4 linked regions of the Homo sapiens genome follow. The protein of the gene in region 1 interacts with the protein of each later gene in a pairwise test. Each region holds a gene or a part of one and is shown in the gene's direction. Other genes may lie near its edges. The genes, in order: GEMIN2, MTNR1A, BEND7 and HOXD10.

Region 1 (4,414 bases):
TTTTTCTTTGAGGGCTCCTATTTCCACATGATGATTACTGTCATATAATAAAGTTTTCATGTTTCGTGTTTTACATCTTAATAGAAAATTTATTTCAAAAGTAATAGGAACAGACAATATTTAAATTTTTCTTTTTTTTTTTTTAGGATAGCAAAGATGATGAGAGGGTTCCTGCTTTGAATTTATTAATCTGCTTGGTTAGCAGGTATAGTTAATCCTTGGCTTCTTTATTATTTATCAGTGAGGTCAGTGAGGTTAGATCGTATTTATTACATTTGGTTTTTGTTTGGTTGGTTTTTTTTTGAGTCTCACTCTGTTGCTATAGTTAGGGTGCAGTGGCGCAATCACAGCTCACTAGAGCTTTAACTTCCTGGGCTCCAGCAATCCTCCCACCTCAGCCTCCTGAGTAGCTAGGACCACAACCAAGCACCACCACACCTGGCTAATTAAAAAAAATTGTTCGTAGAGACAGGGTCTCACTATGTTGCCCAGGCTGGTCTCAAAACTCCTGGGCTCAAGCGATCCTCCCACCTAAGCCTCCGAAAGTGCAGGGATTACAGGTGTAAAGCCACTGCATTCAGCCTGCATTTTTGTTTAATTGCCTGTGTCCTGCGTTCATTTTCAGTTGTGGCATATTTTTATTTAGTATCTGTTTTATTTCATTTCTTACATAGAAATTCTTCTTGGAATTTATTTGAAAACTTTTTTTGTTGTTTTGTTTTGAGACAGAGTCTCGCTCTGTTGCCCAGGCTGGAGTGCAATGGCACCATCTCGGCTCACTACAACCTTCACCTCCTGGGTTCAAGCAATTCTCCCCCCTCAGCCTCCCAAGTAGCTGGGCTTACAGGCACCTGCCATCATGCCCGGCTAATTTTTGTAATTTTGTGGAGACGGAGTTTCACCATTATTGGCCAGGCAGTAAAACACACATATTTATTTTAGGTCTCCTCCTGGACATATTTTTGTTCCATAGATCAGTGTTTTTATTTCATTGCCAGTACCTTTTTAAAGCTTTATAATATACTTAAATATTGGGAAGGCAAGTAATCTTGTTTCCATATTTTCACATATTCAATATCTAGTTTCTTGATCTACAATAATTATGCTGCTGATGATAATTAACATTTACTGGGCAATTTGTGCCAAGCATTTTTCTTAGTGAGGAACCCATTTAATCCTTCTAAGGTGGGTACTGTTAACAGTTTACAGATGAGGAAACCATGGCAGAGAGAGGTTAAATAATATTACTACCATCACAAAGCTAGTAAGTGTTAGAGTAATGATCCAAACCCAGGCAACTTTGACTCCGGAGCTAAACTTTTAACTATGCTGATCAAAAATTAAGCTAATACCTACCTCATCTGTTGGTAGTAGCAGTTAAATGAGATGATATAGCATTGCCCTACTTACTTTATGTATAGTATCTCTACTCTTTACAATAGATCAGAGTTGTGTTTTTGTTTTTGTTTTTGTTTTAATAAATTTTTTCCTTTCAGCTCTGTTGGACTTGATTTTTTTCCTTTTACAGATAATGACACAGATTCAGAAAGGTTAAGTAATTGGTAGCTCAGCAAACCAGTAATTAATGAAACCTCAGACAAGTATAGTTTCTGACTGCCTCAGTTGAGATTTTACAGTATTATGCAATTATGAAAGCAAAAACATTCAAGTGTATTTTTTGCCCTCAAAAAGTTAGATAAAAATGGAAAAAGTTCTAGACTACAAAAGGTTCTGAAGCTAACAGCTTTACAATAGAAGACACAAAGATTTGAAAGTTTAGGAAAAAAAGGACCGGGCATGGTGGCTCATACCTGTAATCCCACCACTTTGGGAGGCCAAGGCGGGTGGATCACCTTAAGTCAGGAGTTCAAGACTAGCCTGGCCAACATGGTGAAACCTCGCCTCTACTAAAAATAGGAAAATTAGCCGGGCACGGTGGTTCACGCCTGTAATCCCAGCTACTCGGGATGGTGAGGCAGGAGAATCACTTGAACCTGGGAGGTGGAGGTTGCAGTGAGCTGAGATCGTGCCATTGCACTCCAGCCTGGGCAACAAGAACGAAACTCCATCTCAAAAAAAAAAGAAAAAAGAAAAAAAAAAGGAAAGCTGGGCACAGTGACTCACACCTGTAAGCCCAGTGCTTTGGGAGGTCAAGGTGGGAGGATTGCTTGAGTCCAGGGGTTCAAGAATGCAGTGAGCCATGACAAAATCTGATTAGTGATTTTCCTTTTTATTTAATCTTATAATTACATAAAATAGTTACCTTGCCAAAGTTAAAATTATAATTCAAGGTACATTTGGAGTATTTTAGCATCCATCTTTATCCTCATTATCCTCTTTTTTCCTTTCTCCTCTAGTTAACCATTGTATTACTAATTTTTGTTTCATCTTTTCATTCATTGTTTCTTTTTAAAAGTATAAGTAGGCCGCATGTGGTGGCTCAAGCCTGTAATTCCAGCACTTCGAGAGACTGAGGCTGGAGAATTGTTTGAGCCCAGGAGTTCAAGACCAGTCTGGGAAATGAGCCATGATCATGCCACTGCACTCCAGCCTGGGTGACAGAGTGAGACCTTGTCTCAAAAAGGAAAAGAAAAATATAAACAAACACGTATATTGGCAGTCCTACACATACTCACATAAGGTAGCATACAGAACAATCTGTTCTGTACTTCGTTTTTTTTCACTTAATAAATCCTGGAAATCATACTTTAGCAGTATAAATACGTTCCTCATACTTTAGCAGTATAAATATTTCCCTCATTTCTCTTTTTATGGCTTCATAATTTTCCACTATGTAGACATACTATAGCTTATTTAACCAGTTTCTTATTGATGGACGTTTGGGTTGCTTATGGTCTTTGGCTATTAAAAATAGTGCTACAGTTAATATCTTTATACATAAATTTTTTGTTTTTTTTTTACTAGGTATTTTGACCAACGTGATTTAGCTGATGAGCCATCTTGATGTAGCTGATCTCTCAGGGATAGAAGATATTTCTCATGAAGGCAGCCTAACTCTGAGGAAAACAATGCCAATTCAAGTACAGATTTCAACACATCTTCAACACTATGTGAAGGGTTCACATCTTAACCTGTGCAATTCAGATTGATACTCAGAATATGGGTTGATTTGAATATCTGAAATATCAATGGAAAATCCCACTCAGTTTTTGATGAACAGTTTGAACAGTTTTCTGTAATCAAGCAGCTTGCATAGAAATTGTATGATGAAATTTTACATAGGTTCTTGGTGCTGTTTTGTTCTTTTTTTGTTTTTTGTTGTTTTGTTATTTACTTATATACATATAAAATTTTATTGAAAATATGTTTTGGTTACTAAAATTTTGTTTGACTCCTAACAAAAGACAATGGATGGCCTTAGCATCAGAATTAAAATAATCTGGATTAAATGGCAATGTGTTCATAGTCAGCAATAAAATTAAACATTTTTCCCTTTAAGCTCAGCACTTTTTTTTTTTTTTTTTTTTTTTCTTTGAGATGGAGTCTCGCTCTGTCATCCAGGCTGGAGTGCAGTGGCAGGATCTCAGCTCACTGCAACCTCTGCCTCCCAGGTTCAAGTGATTCTCCTGCCCCAGGCTCCCGAGTAGCTGGATCTACAGGTGTCCGCCACCAAGCCTGGCTAATTTTTGTATTTTTAGTAGAAACAGGGTTTCACCATGCTGGCCAGGCTGCTCTTGAACTCCTGATCTCAGGTGATCCGCCCGCCTCAGCCTCCCAAAGTGCTGGGATTACAGGCATGAGCCACTGTGCCTGGCCTCAATATTTTTATTTTTAAATGCTTTATTGCACAAATAGAACTTTATCTAACAAATCACTTTCAAAAATAACAGGTCAACTGTTTTAATTTGTTTATGTCACTTATAACTTACCTATTTCTGTATCAGGTAGGAATGTTTTCTGCTTTAAGTAACACAAAAGATCCAAGTGGCAATGGTTCTTCAAATAGGGGTTTTTCTCAGATAACAAGAAGTCTAAAGGAGCTGGCCACTGGCATTGGTTTAGTGACTCAGTGATATCAGGGGCTCAGATTCCTTTAGCCTTTCTGTCATGGAAACAAGATGGCCATTGCAGTTCAAGCCAATGTGTCTGTATTCAAGACAAAAAGAAGGGGAAGCAGGGCCTTCCACATCTGATCCTTTTCTCATAAATGTAAAATCTTTTCTAGAAATTTAGATCAGACTTGTGTTCATCTGCTAGCCATAAATGTACAACATGATCACCCCTTGTTCCCAGGAAAGTGGGAAAATGAAGCTGTACGCCTTTCCAGTCTCACTAATGGAAGGTGGGAAAGGAAAATGGGGATTGGGAATTACCATGGATCAGACAACCAACAGTTTTGCCACCAGTTATAATTAGAGCAGAGGTCATTTTATATTTGAATCTTTTCTGTAAT
Region 2 (4,045 bases), on another chromosome or scaffold:
TTCAACGCTAATTGAAAGTGATCTGTGGGAAAATAAATTTGCCTTTGTAACTTTAATTTGGATGAATACAACCAATTTTTAAAGTATTTGCTTTTATGACAATTTATCTGAAATTCCTAAATAAATGGCACAAATTTTGCCTTTCTCTCATCTTGACTGCTATGGGCTGTCTCATTTCAAATATTGGGAAGTGACAGTTTAATGAACTCATTGAGTGTATGAGCAAAAGTCACTGTATTTATTGGGTGTGGTCTAGGACGCAAATATGAGGAAATGTACTCACGAGGGCCACCATCTGGAGACGCAGGGAAGCCTGGCCTACAGGTCAATAGAATAGAAGGCGAAATCTTCTGTCCGTCCACCTGGGGCTCCCTCTGTCCCTGTCCAGCGCACCCCTTTCCTCACAGCTTCTGGTCTGTGCGTGCTCTGGTGCTGCTGCTTACTCTAGTGTAATTTTCTTTTTCTTTTTTTTCTTTTTTTTTTTTGATACGGAGTTTTGCTCTTGTCACCCAGGCTGGAGTGCAATGGCGCGATCTCTGCTCACTGCAACCTCTGCCTCCCAGGTTCAAGCAATTCTCCTGGCTCAGCCTTCCAAGTAGTTGGGATTACAGGTGCCCGCCACCACGCCCAGCGAATTTTTGTATTTTTAGTAGAGACGGGGTGTCACCATGTTGGCCAGGCTGGTCCTGAACTCCTGACTTCAGTTGATCCACCCACCTTGGCCTCCCAAAGTGCTGGGATTACAGGTGTGAGCCACTGCGCCCAACCACTCTAGTGTAATCTTTTTGACTTTTCCTGTCTCTCAATTCCTGTTTCCCCCTGCACCAAATATATGCATTTAATATGTAAACTGAATTGAATTTATTATAATTTAATCTGAGTAAAAAGCAGTATAAAGTGCTTTAAGACCCTTCAAAGGAGGAAGCTCTTACCACTAGGTGGGCAAATGAGCAAAGGCTTCTGGCATTTCTATTTGAGATAGACTTGGGAGAATGGGCAGGATTTAGAAAGTTGATGTGAGGAGCCATTCGAGGCAGAAGGAATAGTAAGAAACAGAGGCAGAAGAGCCGCAAAAGAAAAAAAACATATTTGCAGAACATCTCATAATATTTGACTAATGTAGCTGGGAGCAATGGCTCACACCTGCCATCCCAGCACTTTGGGAGGCCGAGGCAAGTGGATGGCTGGAGCCCAGGAGTTTGAGAGCAGCCTAGACAAAATGGCAAAACCCCGTCTCTACAAAAATACAAAAACGAGCCGGGTGTGGTGGTGTGCACCTGTGGTCCCTGCTGCTTGGGAGGCTGAGGTAGGAGGATTGCTTGAGCCCTGCAGGCGGAGGTTGCAGTGAGCCAAGGTCGGACCATTGCACTCCAGACTGGGTGACAGAACAAGACTCTGTCTCAAAAAAATAAAAATAAAAAAGTGACTAGAGTTTTTTTTTTCTGTAATTAAATATGTGTTGTTATATTAATTGAGAAAATTAACAGACTATTTAGGGTTTAAGTTTTGTAACGTAAGTTCTTTATAAGATCTAAGAGAATTTCTGCATTTTCCTTTGGTTCAAGGTGAGGGAGTCGTAGAATAAGAACATTTCTATGGTGTAAGACACGGTACATGGCGCTCACCACAGATAGTCTCATCTCGTGCTCACCACAGCCCTAAGAGGAAGCTGCTCATTATCCCATCATCCAGGGGAGGAGGCAGGTGCTTGGGGAGATCAAGTAACTTGCCCCGGTTGGACAGTTAGTAAGGAGTGAAGCCATGTTCTCATCCAGACGGCTGACGACAGATCCCTCTTGCCCTTAACTCCCTCTCTATGGGATCAGCAAGAACAGAAGCTAGAGGCCCCCTGAGAGCTGCTGAAGCACTACAGAGGGAATGAAGACTTGAACTTAAGGAAGTTGTGGCTGGCTTGACATCATATGAGATTTCTCAGGTGATGTAGAAGGCTCCAGAACAACAGATGGTGTGCAAGCATTCTGATCTCAGGACTTTTTAAGAGATGAGAAGCCGAACGGTTTGAAAGACAGCAGTTTTGAACATGGAACAGGCCCTGTTCTGGGGAGGTGGGAATGTGTGAACAGCGGATTCGATGTGTCAGGAGCGGCAGTGGACTGGCCCTCCTGGGAAACGGCCTCCACTTCATTTGCAGTGCGGCCGCCGCTGTGACGTCAGGTCATCGGAGCTGCAGAAGCAGCTCCTTCTTTAACAATTGTAACAGAAAACCCACTGTGAACTGGTATTCACTGTATTTTCTAAACGATTCTCTTTCAGGAAACATCTTTGTGGTGAGCTTAGCGGTGGCAGACCTGGTGGTGGCCATTTATCCGTACCCGTTGGTGCTGATGTCGATATTTAACAACGGGTGGAACCTGGGCTATCTGCACTGCCAAGTCAGTGGGTTCCTGATGGGCCTGAGCGTCATCGGCTCCATATTCAACATCACCGGCATCGCCATCAACCGCTACTGCTACATCTGCCACAGTCTCAAGTACGACAAACTGTACAGCAGCAAGAACTCCCTCTGCTACGTGCTCCTCATATGGCTCCTGACGCTGGCGGCCGTCCTGCCCAACCTCCGTGCAGGGACTCTCCAGTACGACCCGAGGATCTACTCGTGCACCTTCGCCCAGTCCGTCAGCTCCGCCTACACCATCGCCGTGGTGGTTTTCCACTTCCTCGTCCCCATGATCATAGTCATCTTCTGTTACCTGAGAATATGGATCCTGGTTCTCCAGGTCAGACAGAGGGTGAAACCTGACCGCAAACCCAAACTGAAACCACAGGACTTCAGGAATTTTGTCACCATGTTTGTGGTTTTTGTCCTTTTTGCCATTTGCTGGGCTCCTCTGAACTTCATTGGCCTGGCCGTGGCCTCTGACCCCGCCAGCATGGTGCCTAGGATCCCAGAGTGGCTGTTTGTGGCCAGTTACTACATGGCGTATTTCAACAGCTGCCTCAATGCCATTATATACGGGCTACTGAACCAAAATTTCAGGAAGGAATACAGGAGAATTATAGTCTCGCTCTGTACAGCCAGGGTGTTCTTTGTGGACAGCTCTAACGACGTGGCCGATAGGGTTAAATGGAAACCGTCTCCACTGATGACCAACAATAATGTAGTAAAGGTGGACTCCGTTTAAAAAAGCACCACGTTCCGGGTGAGATGGACACGCTGCGCAAGGCCTCGCTCTTGACAGATGTCTGGGAAAGCAGAGTGGTGGAGGAAACTTCCAACTTTTACCTGGCTGCTGCCATAGTTTCTGAGCTAACGTGCTGTCAGCATTATAAACCCCTCCAATTCTACTAGTCAAGAGAAGTACAGAATGTATGGAGAGTTACATGTTAACTGAGGAATGCGGTTCAGGGCTGGGGTGAGAGTAAGCTGCTGAATGCATTCAGGGGAAGGAGTGTGCAAACTTTTATTGTAAATGAGTGCCACAAAAGGGGTAATTGCATTCTTCTTCACTTTTTGAAGACTTCTAGCAGAAAAATGAAAGAGAATTTTATTTATAAATGAGCAAATGGAACAATTTTTTTTCTGTAAATGGAACAAACAATGAAAGTGGGGTGAGTGCCTCTTATTACAGAGGGAAAGGCTGAACATAAATCAGTTAATGGCTCATCAACAATCACAACCACAACCAACACCACAAACCTTTCAGCTGGCAGAGTTAGCATTGGGTAGCTATACTCATGGTCATAAATGTTTGCTGCTCTATATTACAAGTTGTGCATGCAACCAGATAAAGAACTAAATCATAGGCCGGGCACAGTCGCTCACACCTGTAATCTCAGCACTTTGGGAGGCTGAGGTGGGCAGATCAACTGAGTTCAGGAGTTTGAGACCACCCTGGGCAACATGATGAAATCCCATCTCTAAAAAAATACAAAAAATTATCTGGGCATGGTGGCACACGCCTGTAATCCCAGCTACTCAGGAGACTGAGTTAGGAGAATCCCTTGAGCCCCAGAGGCAGAGGTTGTGGTGAGCCGAGATCGCGCCAGTACATTCCAACTTAGGCTACAGAATGAGACTCTGCCT
Region 3 (4,838 bases), on another chromosome or scaffold:
CGCGCCGGGCTAAACAGCATCTTTTTAAGCACTGAATTTGGTTTTACCCCAAGGAAGTATTTTGCTCAGGTCAGTAAGCATTGGACTCACCTTGTTCCACTACGATAATCTGTGTTCTTATTAACCTGGAGGAGGTTAACATCTCCTAAATAAGGAGCTCAGAAAGAAAGGTTACTTTATGATGTTCGGATTCTTTTCTCCGAGGAGGAATTTGTTAGCACTTAAGAAAATATGCATATGAAATTGTAATGATTTGTTTTGTCACTTAAGCTCCTTACTACTGAAATGGCAAACTACAAATTGCAACCATTTAAATCCTTGACGGAAGCCTTTTTAGAATCTATTAAGTAAATGCCACTTTGTCGCTATGTTTTCTTTTCTGAACCTTTGCAGATTAGGGAGGTAAACGATTCCAAAGCTGTAGGATGGCACAAAGGATAAACTGAATAAATTACTCTCCTTTAATTTTCTTAAACTTAAAAATTTGTGTCATGTGGGTAGATTTACTTAAGGTTTAATGCCTGAAGACTTAGATTTAAATTACATTTAGAAAGTTTCACCTTTCTTTTAAGAAGACAGGGAATAAGACCTAGAGGTAAGATCTGGATGCCAGAGACTTGGGCTGTGTCTAGATTTGCAAAAGGAGAAGAAAAACTCAGATAGTCCCCGTGTTCCTTAAACCAAAACATTTTCATTTCTAATTGAGAATCATGAGGCTTAGCAAGGCCTGGGGCCTAGACCATCGTGATCATTATTCGAGGTCCCTTTGATTCTGAGGGTGCAGACCCAGCCTTGAGGGGGAATGCAGAGAGACCAAAGAGAAGTTCCCAACTCTGGCTGCACAGCAGAATCACTGGAAGAGCTTTCAGACAATGCTGTTTCCCAGGCAGCATGCCTGGAGGTGTCAGTTCACTTCGTCTGGGGTGGGGCTGAGGCATTTCAGTTTTTTTGTTTGTTTGTTTTTGTTTTTGTTTTGAGACATAGTCTCACTCTGTCGCCAGGCTGGAGTGCAGTGGCGTAATCTCGGCTCACTGCAACCTCCGCCTCCTGGGTTCAAGTGATTCTCCTGCCTCAGCCTCTCAAGTAGCTGGGACTACAGGTGCCCACCACCATGCCCAGCTAATTTTTGTATTTTTAGTAGAGACGGGGTTTCACCATGTTGGCCAGGATGGTCTCGATCTCTTGACCTCGTGATCCGCCCACCTCGGCCTCCCAAAGTGCTGGGATTACAGGGGTGAGCCACCATGCCTGGCCCGGCATCTCAGTTTTTTTAAACTCAAGTGATTCTAATGTACAACCAAGGTTGAGAACCATTGAGCTAGACTAATTACTGGTTTAAAAACTTCTGTGCTCTTATGTAGTGCAATTAGTTTGCTTCTAATATTTATGAATTGCTTTTGAATTTGGAGACAAAAATATCAGGATCAAAGTGTAAATATTCTTTATTTTCAGACTGATAAGAGGTAAGAGGAGGTGATTCATGTTTATATGCCTTTAAAGACCTTTAGTTTTCACTTGTCTTATAGGTTCATTTCTGTTGAAAAGCAGGGACATCCTATAGTCATATTTAGGAAGCTATATTAATACTTGAGGATTTAAACAATGATGCCATGTTTTCCAATTACACTTTCCAAGAGAGTATTTTTAAATGGCTAGCAAACATAACTTCTCAGAGTGCACCTGTGAGAACTGTAATTTACCATCCTGGATTTCTTTAAGTATAGAATCAGGTTGAATACTTGGTTCCTGTACTGTGCTTTTCATGTTTGGAACTGTTTCTAGATTTCACTGATTTGCTTGACTTGTACAGAATGATATTGCTCCTTCAGTTATGTGAAACCGAGGTCTAGAGAAGTAGCCTGGTCTGAGGCCATGTAGCAGGGTGCTCTGGAGGTGGTTGATGTGTGGAGAATATTTGTTTGGTGAGGAAGGATTCACTGGTCCTAATTAAGTAACTAATAGGCTTTTCCCACATGCTTACTGGTCCCTAATGTAGAATCATCCCAGACGGCTTCTTTTGATCAGTCTTGCGCAAATGATCATCACTGTCTCATCTTTATCAGTTTTGGCACCTGTAGATTATTAGGAACGGATCAGTCTAACCCCAAATGTAATCCTGAAACAGGATTACAAGGAAGCACAGCCGTCTCTATCTAAATTTAAATCCCGAAGTTCTCATTTATTTAAAAACATCCTATGATTTATAAAGCCATGCTCAGGTGTTTTCTCACAGCTCATGATCCTTTCCCTGCATTGAACCCAACAGCAGTATGCTGTCACGATTCACCTGCAGTAACGCTTTCTCCTGAGTATTTTTCTGCCTTTAGGACTTGAAAGTGCTTCAGAGCCTGCGTTTGGTAACCTTTAGGTCCAGTTGGAGATTTATTTAGTGTGCTTCATCCTGGAGTTTTCCTCGTTTCGGTTTCAGTTTGTAGATCACATGGATAGACCGGAGATAAGTTTTCCTAAGTCAGACACACGTGCCTGTACCATATTTTTGTTTATTATTCGCAGTTGGAACTCAAAACAGACAACAACCTCCAATTTCCCTTATATGCTCCCAGCGAACTGCTGTCTCACGAAAGAGAAATAAAAAGAAAAAAGTGCCCCCAAAGACTGTGGAACCTCTTACTGTGAAACAGAAGCCCAGTGGGTCAGAGATGGAGAAAAAGTCGGTGGTGGCCTCTGAGCTATCTGCTCTCCAGGCAGCCGAGCACACCTCCCCGGAGGAGAGCCGCGTTCTAGGATTCGGCATTGTTCTGGAATCACCTTCCTCAGATGTAAGTTGCCATTTTCTGGCTGCTGACTCTAATGCTATGTAACTTTTGGGAATTTTATAGTATTTATAGATTTCCCTTTTGACAACTAGAGAAACTTGCAGACTATATGTGGGAAAGAAGAAAAGAAGACTGGTAATAATTTTCTTGTCTGGAGTTTTCTTTTCTGAAAATGTGATGCCTTATTTATTTAGACAGGTTTCCAGTTTTTGTCTCCGAAAGGAGGAGGGTGATGGCGTAAATAATCTGCTCACTAATTTCTTTTGCATTTTTAATTTTGCAGTGACAATTTTCAATTTCCTTAGTGTAGAGACCTAAAAGAATATAATTAAATCCTTTGTAGATGGGCATAAATGAACAGGGCCATACAGATAAGATCGCACCTTTCTGGAAACACAAACTAATAATAAAAAAGGAGCAGTCATGCTAATTCTATTTTATAGATGCAAGCCACACCACTAATTAGGTGGCAGCGCCATGCCATTTACTCCGTGTAATGATAGGTTAAGGCTCTGCAAAGGTTTTTCTATTTTAATATCACAGCCAGAATGTTGCCGCAGTCCAGAATGTTGGATGACATCCGAGATAACCATCTGACTTGCTATTTTACATTCATAGGACCATAAACGAATGTGTTTAATAGTGCACTATATTTGCAATTGCATTTCTATTTACAATGTCTTTCTCTAAGTATGTTTGTGTTGTGAACCTTAACTTGTTGGGAGAGTTCTTAAAATAAACAAGAATGGGGGATCTGTTCTTATCAGATTGCATAGGACGAGAATCCTGCTGCGAACTCCCGCAGGCCTGTATAGGATTGGAGGTTGGCCATACCTTTTAAACTTTAAGTAGGAAACAAATTGCTTTTTAAAAAAGTTTTAAAAATTTTGAAAGAAATTGTGGGAAGACAGTTTGCTAGGGTATATCCACATTGGGTTTTTAACAAAGGGAGGGGACAAAAATCATCATCTTGTGACTTTTTTAGATTGGAAAGTTGTTGGAACTTTTACCTAATTCTCGGTGTTAAAGGTTCTTTTTTTTTTTTGAAATCTATAAACACTTGCTACAATTGTTAAGAAGTTCATCTAGTCTAAAAATTTAATTTTAAAACATCATTAATGATGATAACGTTCTATGCTGGACCAGTCAGCTCATGCAATGATATCATATTGCTATTGCAACTAGGGCCCTGAGTCAAACCCCAGGTAGATCACATATTCGGAAACAGAGGTAAATTATTCCTCAACACAAAGTACATTCAGTCCTTAAATTTTCTAAGCATTTTTTTTTTTTTTTTTTTTTAGACAGAGTCTCGCTGTGTCGCCCAGGCTAGAGTGTAGTGGCATGATCTCCACTCACTGCAACCTCCGCCTCTTGGGTTCAAGCAATTCTCCTACCTCAGCCTCCTGAGTAGCTGGGACTGCAGGTACTTGCCACCACCCCCGGCTAATGAAAACTCAGTTAGCTGTTGATTGTCTTGGAAGAATAACATGCTTCTAAAGAAAAGTGAGGCCAGGCATGGTGGCTTACCCCTGTAATCCCAACACTTTGGGAGGCCAAGGTGGGCAGATCAACTGAGGTCAAGAGTTCGAGACCAGCCTGGCCAACATGGGAAAACCCGTTCTCTACTAAAAATACAAAAATTAGCTGGATGTGGTGGCACATGCCTATAGTCCTAACTACTCGGGAGGCTGAGGCATAAGAATCACTTGAACCCAGGAGGCAGAGGTTGCAGTGAGCCGAGATTACACCACTGCACTCCAACCTGGGTGACAGAGGGAGATTCCGTCTCAAAAAAAAACAAAAACAAAAAAACAAAATCATAGGATTGGGCAAGTGGCCCAGTGTTGCTAGAACAGCTGTCTGGCTGGCATTGGTAAAAGCAGGGTGGGGTGAGAGAGTGAAAGTCCAGGTGAGGCCTTCAGCCTTTATCTGTGGGCAGGAGGGAGCCATTGCAAGTTTCCAGTAAAGGAAGAATTGTGCCTGAATCTTAGAACCGTAGCTAGAACAGCATGCGGCTGACAGAAAGATAGAGATAGCCGGAGGAAGATGCATGCAGCC
Region 4 (5,276 bases), on another chromosome or scaffold:
ACCTAGAGTCAAAAGTTATGTTTTGTCTTGTTTTGTTTTTCCGGCCATCCTCAACCCCCACCCCCAAGCTCGAAAACAGCCACCCCTGTGGAAAGGTAATGTTTAAACCCCAGGCTATGCTGGGATGCTGCAGCCAAAGCAGTTAGAGGCGCCAGGCTTTTAACCTGACAATGATGTTGTATTTGAACAGCTGCGTAAAGGTTTAAAAGGTCTGTCTCATTGCCACCGCGGAGTTTTTTAAAAGAGGTTATTGTTTGGGCGAGAGCACCGAGAGGGAACAGGCGAAAGGGTCCCAAGGCCGAAAATAATGTTCAACGCTTGTTTCAACCAGGCCAGGGGAGATTCCTTTTTGGGAAGAGGGACAAAGGGTTTTTTGGGAAAGGTTTTTGTAAAGGAGCGGGCGGGCTACTAGGTCCCCCAGAATGCTGAGGCGCTTTAATGAACCTCAGGCCCCAAAGAAATGTTCTATTGAGGTGGAAACCCAATTTACCCACAAGTTCAGTCTCTGGGCCTGAAATCCAAGGCCAGCCCATGCCCCAGCGAGTACGGGGAAAAGAGAACACAGATGCCCTCCCGGACTGAGAACTGGTTCATGGTCAGAGTTTCTGGGACCGCTTTAGTTTCTTGGCTGGCAGGAAGGGAACCTGGCAGGCCGAAGGACGGCTCCAAGCCCTGGCCGGCCCCTCACTCAGGGCAAGTCTTTGGAAATCAAGGTTAAAGCTCCCCGCTGCTGCCCCGAGGCCCGGGCTTCCGCAGGGCGGCTCACCCGCCTGCAGCAAGAGAGGGAGGGAGGAAGTTGTTGAAGTTTCTCATAAAACTCTGAGTTTCCATGGTGGTAGTGGTGGTAGTGGTGGTAGTGGTGGTAGTGGTGGTTCTTTAATGAGCCGGACCACAACCCCAGACCATATCCTCTTCATAGAAGTTTCCCTCACCAAAGGAAACAGAGAACTAAGATTCCCACCTCCTTCCCCTCCCTTACCCAAGCAAAGCCTTGTCAAATAATTTCAGAAATTGTCCAAAACTGTAAAACTCAACTTCTGACAAAAGTATAGCTTTTAATATTTGACAATTTGTATTAAAACAAAAATGACCTTCTTGGTTAGCAGCGAAGGGAAAAAAATCAATAGTATAATTTTCAATAATTCATAAAGCGAACGCCATTATGGTAAATTTAACTATTAATCTTATCCTTTACAAAGTCTCGATTGATTTGTTAATAAAGTATCTTCCCGTGTGTGGCAACAGCGGGCATAACTCTTTAAAAACCTTCAGAAGCAAGAAAATTACCAAGTAGCCCAAGAATGTAGATGAGAATTTTATTGATCGCCCTGATTCTTCTTAATATGTATTAATAAATTCCACAACCTTTTGTACCTTGCACTTGTCAGAAACCAGTGCTTTTACAAAATCCATAAAAGGAAAACATTTTTCTTTGCAGAAGAACCAAAATGACACCTTTGCATTTCTCTCTGTCCTTCTTGGCCCAGTCAGTTTTCTAAAACTTCTGGATTCTGAGGGTCAGAGTTTCCCCTTTTCTTAAATTATTTTTTCCTTTCTTCCTTCCTGTTTGCCCTCCATTATCAGGGTGTGGGGAGAGAAACCTCTGTTTAGTTCTCCTACAGGGAGCCCGAGGGACGCTTTCGCGGATAGTGAACTGCTGGCAAAGAATTGTCTCTGGGCTGAAAGCTCCCAGAGGTCCGGCCCCGCAGAGGTCAGGGTGTGGTTCCTCTGAGAGCCGAAGCCTCGTGTAGCCCTCCGGGGCGCATAGGAACCCGGAGCCAGGCAGGAGGACCGAGCGGGAGGACAACGCAGGGACCAACCCATCCATGGGGATCCGGGCCCGGCCAGCTGCTTGGCCTCCCGGCCCTCGCGGCCCTTTTTGCCTCCGCCCTCCTAGAGACACCTTGGCCGCTTCTTAGCCCCAAGGGATCTTTCCTTTGGACCCCTGGGGTGGGATGTCTCAGGGCCCGCGGAATCCGACTCACCTTCCCGCTGGGCTGCCCGGGACTAAATTAACCAGCCTGCGCCCCCACCCGCTTGTCCTGGACCCGGCCCTCTTAAGCGCGTTCTGCCTGGTTGTGTGTGGGGGGAATGCTTCTGTGCGCTGGCGCCAGGGCACTCTGGCTTCCCTCCCCGTCCGTGCGTGTCCACTTGGAGGCCCCTAGAGCTGAGACTTTCCTTCCGCCGGTTGGGCCCAGGGGCCGAAGCGGGGGACGCGAGTGGGGCGGGCTGGCCGAGCGAGCCCTGGAGAGGCGGACAGGAGGGCGGCGGAGAGCGCTGGGCCGGTTGTCTCCAGCGCGCACTATCGCGGGCGCGTAGTAGATGTCGCTGTTGTCCGTGCTTACCCGGCCGGCCGGCCAGGCTCTGGAGCACGTGACCCGAGAGGAGGCTGCGGCTCAAGGCCATTTTCAAATCTCATTGGCTTGGTTGTCATGTGGTCGGCAGAGGCATCCACAATTACACGGGGAATGTTTTCCTAGAGATGTCAGCCTACAAAGGACACAATCTCTCTTCTTCAAATTCTTCCCCAAAATGTCCTTTCCCAACAGCTCTCCTGCTGCTAATACTTTTTTAGTAGATTCCTTGATCAGTGCCTGCAGGAGTGACAGTTTTTATTCCAGCAGCGCCAGCATGTACATGCCACCACCTAGCGCAGACATGGGGACCTATGGAATGCAAACCTGTGGACTGCTCCCGTCTCTGGCCAAAAGAGAAGTGAACCACCAAAATATGGGTATGAATGTGCATCCTTATATACCTCAAGTAGACAGTTGGACAGATCCGAACAGATCTTGTCGAATAGAGCAACCTGTTACACAGCAAGTCCCCACTTGCTCCTTCACCACCAACATTAAGGAAGAATCCAATTGCTGCATGTATTCTGATAAGCGCAACAAACTCATTTCGGCCGAGGTCCCTTCGTACCAGAGGCTGGTCCCTGAGTCTTGTCCCGTTGAGAACCCTGAGGTTCCCGTCCCTGGATATTTTAGACTGAGTCAGACCTACGCCACCGGGAAAACCCAAGAGTACAATAATAGCCCCGAAGGCAGCTCCACTGTCATGCTCCAGCTCAACCCTCGTGGCGCGGCCAAGCCGCAGCTCTCCGCTGCCCAGCTGCAGATGGAAAAGAAGATGAACGAGCCCGTGAGCGGCCAGGAGCCCACCAAAGTCTCCCAGGTGGAGAGCCCCGAGGCCAAAGGCGGCCTTCCCGAAGAGAGGAGCTGCCTGGCTGAGGTCTCCGTGTCCAGTCCCGAAGTGCAGGAGAAGGAAAGCAAAGGTCGGTATGAGCAGAGTTGCCACCCCAGCGGGGCGCGCAGCCCGGGAACCCGGCAGAGAGGGAGTGCCGGGGTGCCCAGCGCCGAGCCGGAGCCCGACTTGGCAGGTGCTGCTCCGCCTGGTTTTAGAGGGGTGATCTCAGCCCTGAGATAGTCCCCGCTTCTCCCCTGCTGCCCTGGCCCTCTCCGCCAGTCCTGGCCCCACGCTGATGGCGCCCGGGCAGAGGAAAAGCTTGCCGGTTTTATTTTTCCTGAGCTAGACCTGAACACAACAAAAGAGCGCAAAGGAGACCTGCGGCTCATAAACACGACCACAGAGCCTCTTTTCTCCTGCTCAGATTTGCAGTTCCAGTTTTGCCTTGAGCCCAATGATCATGTTAAGGTGATCCAGGGCACCGTGTTCGTGTTCAAGTGTATGCACCCCGCATCCTGCGAGCTTGGGGGTGGTGAGGGGAAAGAGATGGCTGGGCTGGTTGGTGCTTGAGTTGGGAAACAGGGCTTACTGCCTTTGCTGGGCTAGGTAACCTTGGCTTTGTTTAGGAAAAGTGCTGCAGTCTTTGCAATCCGTCGGCAAAGAGGGCAAAGGCGGAGGGGGAGAGTGGAACCCGCATTGCCCTCCCTGCAAGGCCAGCCTTAGGGCTGGGCTAAGGCAAAGAGCCAGGGATCTGGCTTTTTGAGAAGGAACCCTCCTCCTCTCCCCCAGTGCTTAGAGGTGGGCCACAGTAGGGGGCTCCCTTTCTGGGGGAATGCTTTAGTGTGGGGGCAAGAAGACATGAAAATTAAGGAAATTCTGGGGAATGCAACAATACCCAGGCAAGGTGGGGGAAGGTGTCTCGCTTCCCCATTTATCTTTTGAAAGAGAATGGGCACCTATAAACCTGACTGTCAGGATTCCTGACTGCCTAGGAGAGGTGGGGAAGAAGTGGCAGATTTGGGGACCTGAGGCAGCAGTGGGGTTGGTAGGCTTGTCCAGGTCGTGGCGTATTCCCCTCCGTCCCTGTTAGGAGCTGAACCCTTAGAATGTTGCTGGGGAGATCTGGAAAGTTTACTATTCTACTAATGTTTTGTACAAGTGAGAAAGTTGAAAGAGAGAGCGAGAACCCAAATGCAGACTGTCCTGCCATCATGTCATTTAAGTAATGTGGCATCAATGTAAGATTCCCTTCCAAGGCCCACTTCATGTGAGTAATGTTTAATACTAGCATTTTCCAAAGCGGCCTGGCTGCCAGCAGGGTCACGGCCAAGGGTACATTTGAACAGTCTGAAGAAAAAAACAAAAACGAAAACCAAAACCAAAACCAAAACAAAAACAAAAACAAAAACAAACAAACAAAAAACCTCTTGATTTTTTTCTTCTTCTCCCTTTAATTTTGTTAGAGGAAATCAAGTCTGATACACCAACCAGCAATTGGCTCACTGCAAAGAGTGGCAGAAAGAAGAGGTGCCCTTACACTAAGCACCAAACGCTGGAATTAGAAAAAGAGTTCTTGTTCAATATGTACCTCACCCGCGAGCGCCGCCTAGAGATCAGTAAGAGCGTTAACCTCACCGACAGGCAGGTCAAGATTTGGTTTCAAAACCGCCGAATGAAACTCAAGAAGATGAGCCGAGAGAACCGGATCCGAGAACTGACCGCCAACCTCACGTTTTCTTAGGTCTGAGGCCGGTCTGAGGCCGGTCAGAGGCCAGGATTGGAGAGGGGGCACCGCGTTCCAGGGCCCAGTGCTGGAGGACTGGGAAAGCGGAAACAAAACCTTCACCGCTCTTTGTTTGTTGTTTTGTTGTATTTTGTTTTCCTGCTAGAATGTGACTTTGGGGTCATTATGTTCGTGCTGCAAGTGATCTGTAATCCCTATGAGTATATATATATATATATATATATATATATAAAAACTTAGCACGTGTAATTTATTATTTTTTCATCGTAATGCAGGGTAACTATTATTGCGCATTTTCATTTGGGTCTTAACTTATTGGAACTGTAGAGCATCCATCCATCCA

The links.
Region 2: the proteins of GEMIN2 (region 1) and MTNR1A interact in a two-hybrid assay, tested with the Homo sapiens proteins (one large-scale study listed by BioGRID and IntAct).
Region 3: the proteins of GEMIN2 (region 1) and BEND7 interact in binary tests that used the Homo sapiens proteins (3 or more experiments, as listed by UniProt).
Region 4: the proteins of GEMIN2 (region 1) and HOXD10 interact in binary tests that used the Homo sapiens proteins (3 or more experiments, as listed by UniProt).

What each region holds. Positions count from the first base shown.
Region 1 is NC_000014.9:39,133,515-39,137,928, forward strand, and holds the end of GEMIN2 (gem-associated protein 2), read left to right. Parts: intron 1-146; coding exon 147-205; intron 206-2,925; coding exon 2,926-2,965; 3' UTR 2,966-3,459; downstream 3,460-4,414. UniProt on the Homo sapiens protein: The SMN complex catalyzes the assembly of small nuclear ribonucleoproteins (snRNPs), the building blocks of the spliceosome, and thereby plays an important role in the splicing of cellular pre-mRNAs.
Region 2 is NC_000004.12:186,532,787-186,536,831, reverse strand, and holds the end of MTNR1A (melatonin receptor type 1A), read left to right. Parts: intron 1-2,274; coding exon 2,275-3,143; 3' UTR 3,144-3,177; downstream 3,178-4,045.
Region 3 is NC_000010.11:13,490,553-13,495,390, reverse strand, and holds part of BEND7 (BEN domain-containing protein 7), read left to right. Parts: intron 1-2,514; coding exon 2,515-2,780; intron 2,781-4,838.
Region 4 is NC_000002.12:176,114,302-176,119,577, forward strand, and holds the start of HOXD10 (homeobox protein Hox-D10), read left to right. Parts: upstream 1-2,476; 5' UTR 2,477-2,532; coding exon 2,533-3,277; intron 3,278-4,652; coding exon 4,653-4,930; 3' UTR 4,931-5,276. UniProt on the Homo sapiens protein: Sequence-specific transcription factor which is part of a developmental regulatory system that provides cells with specific positional identities on the anterior-posterior axis.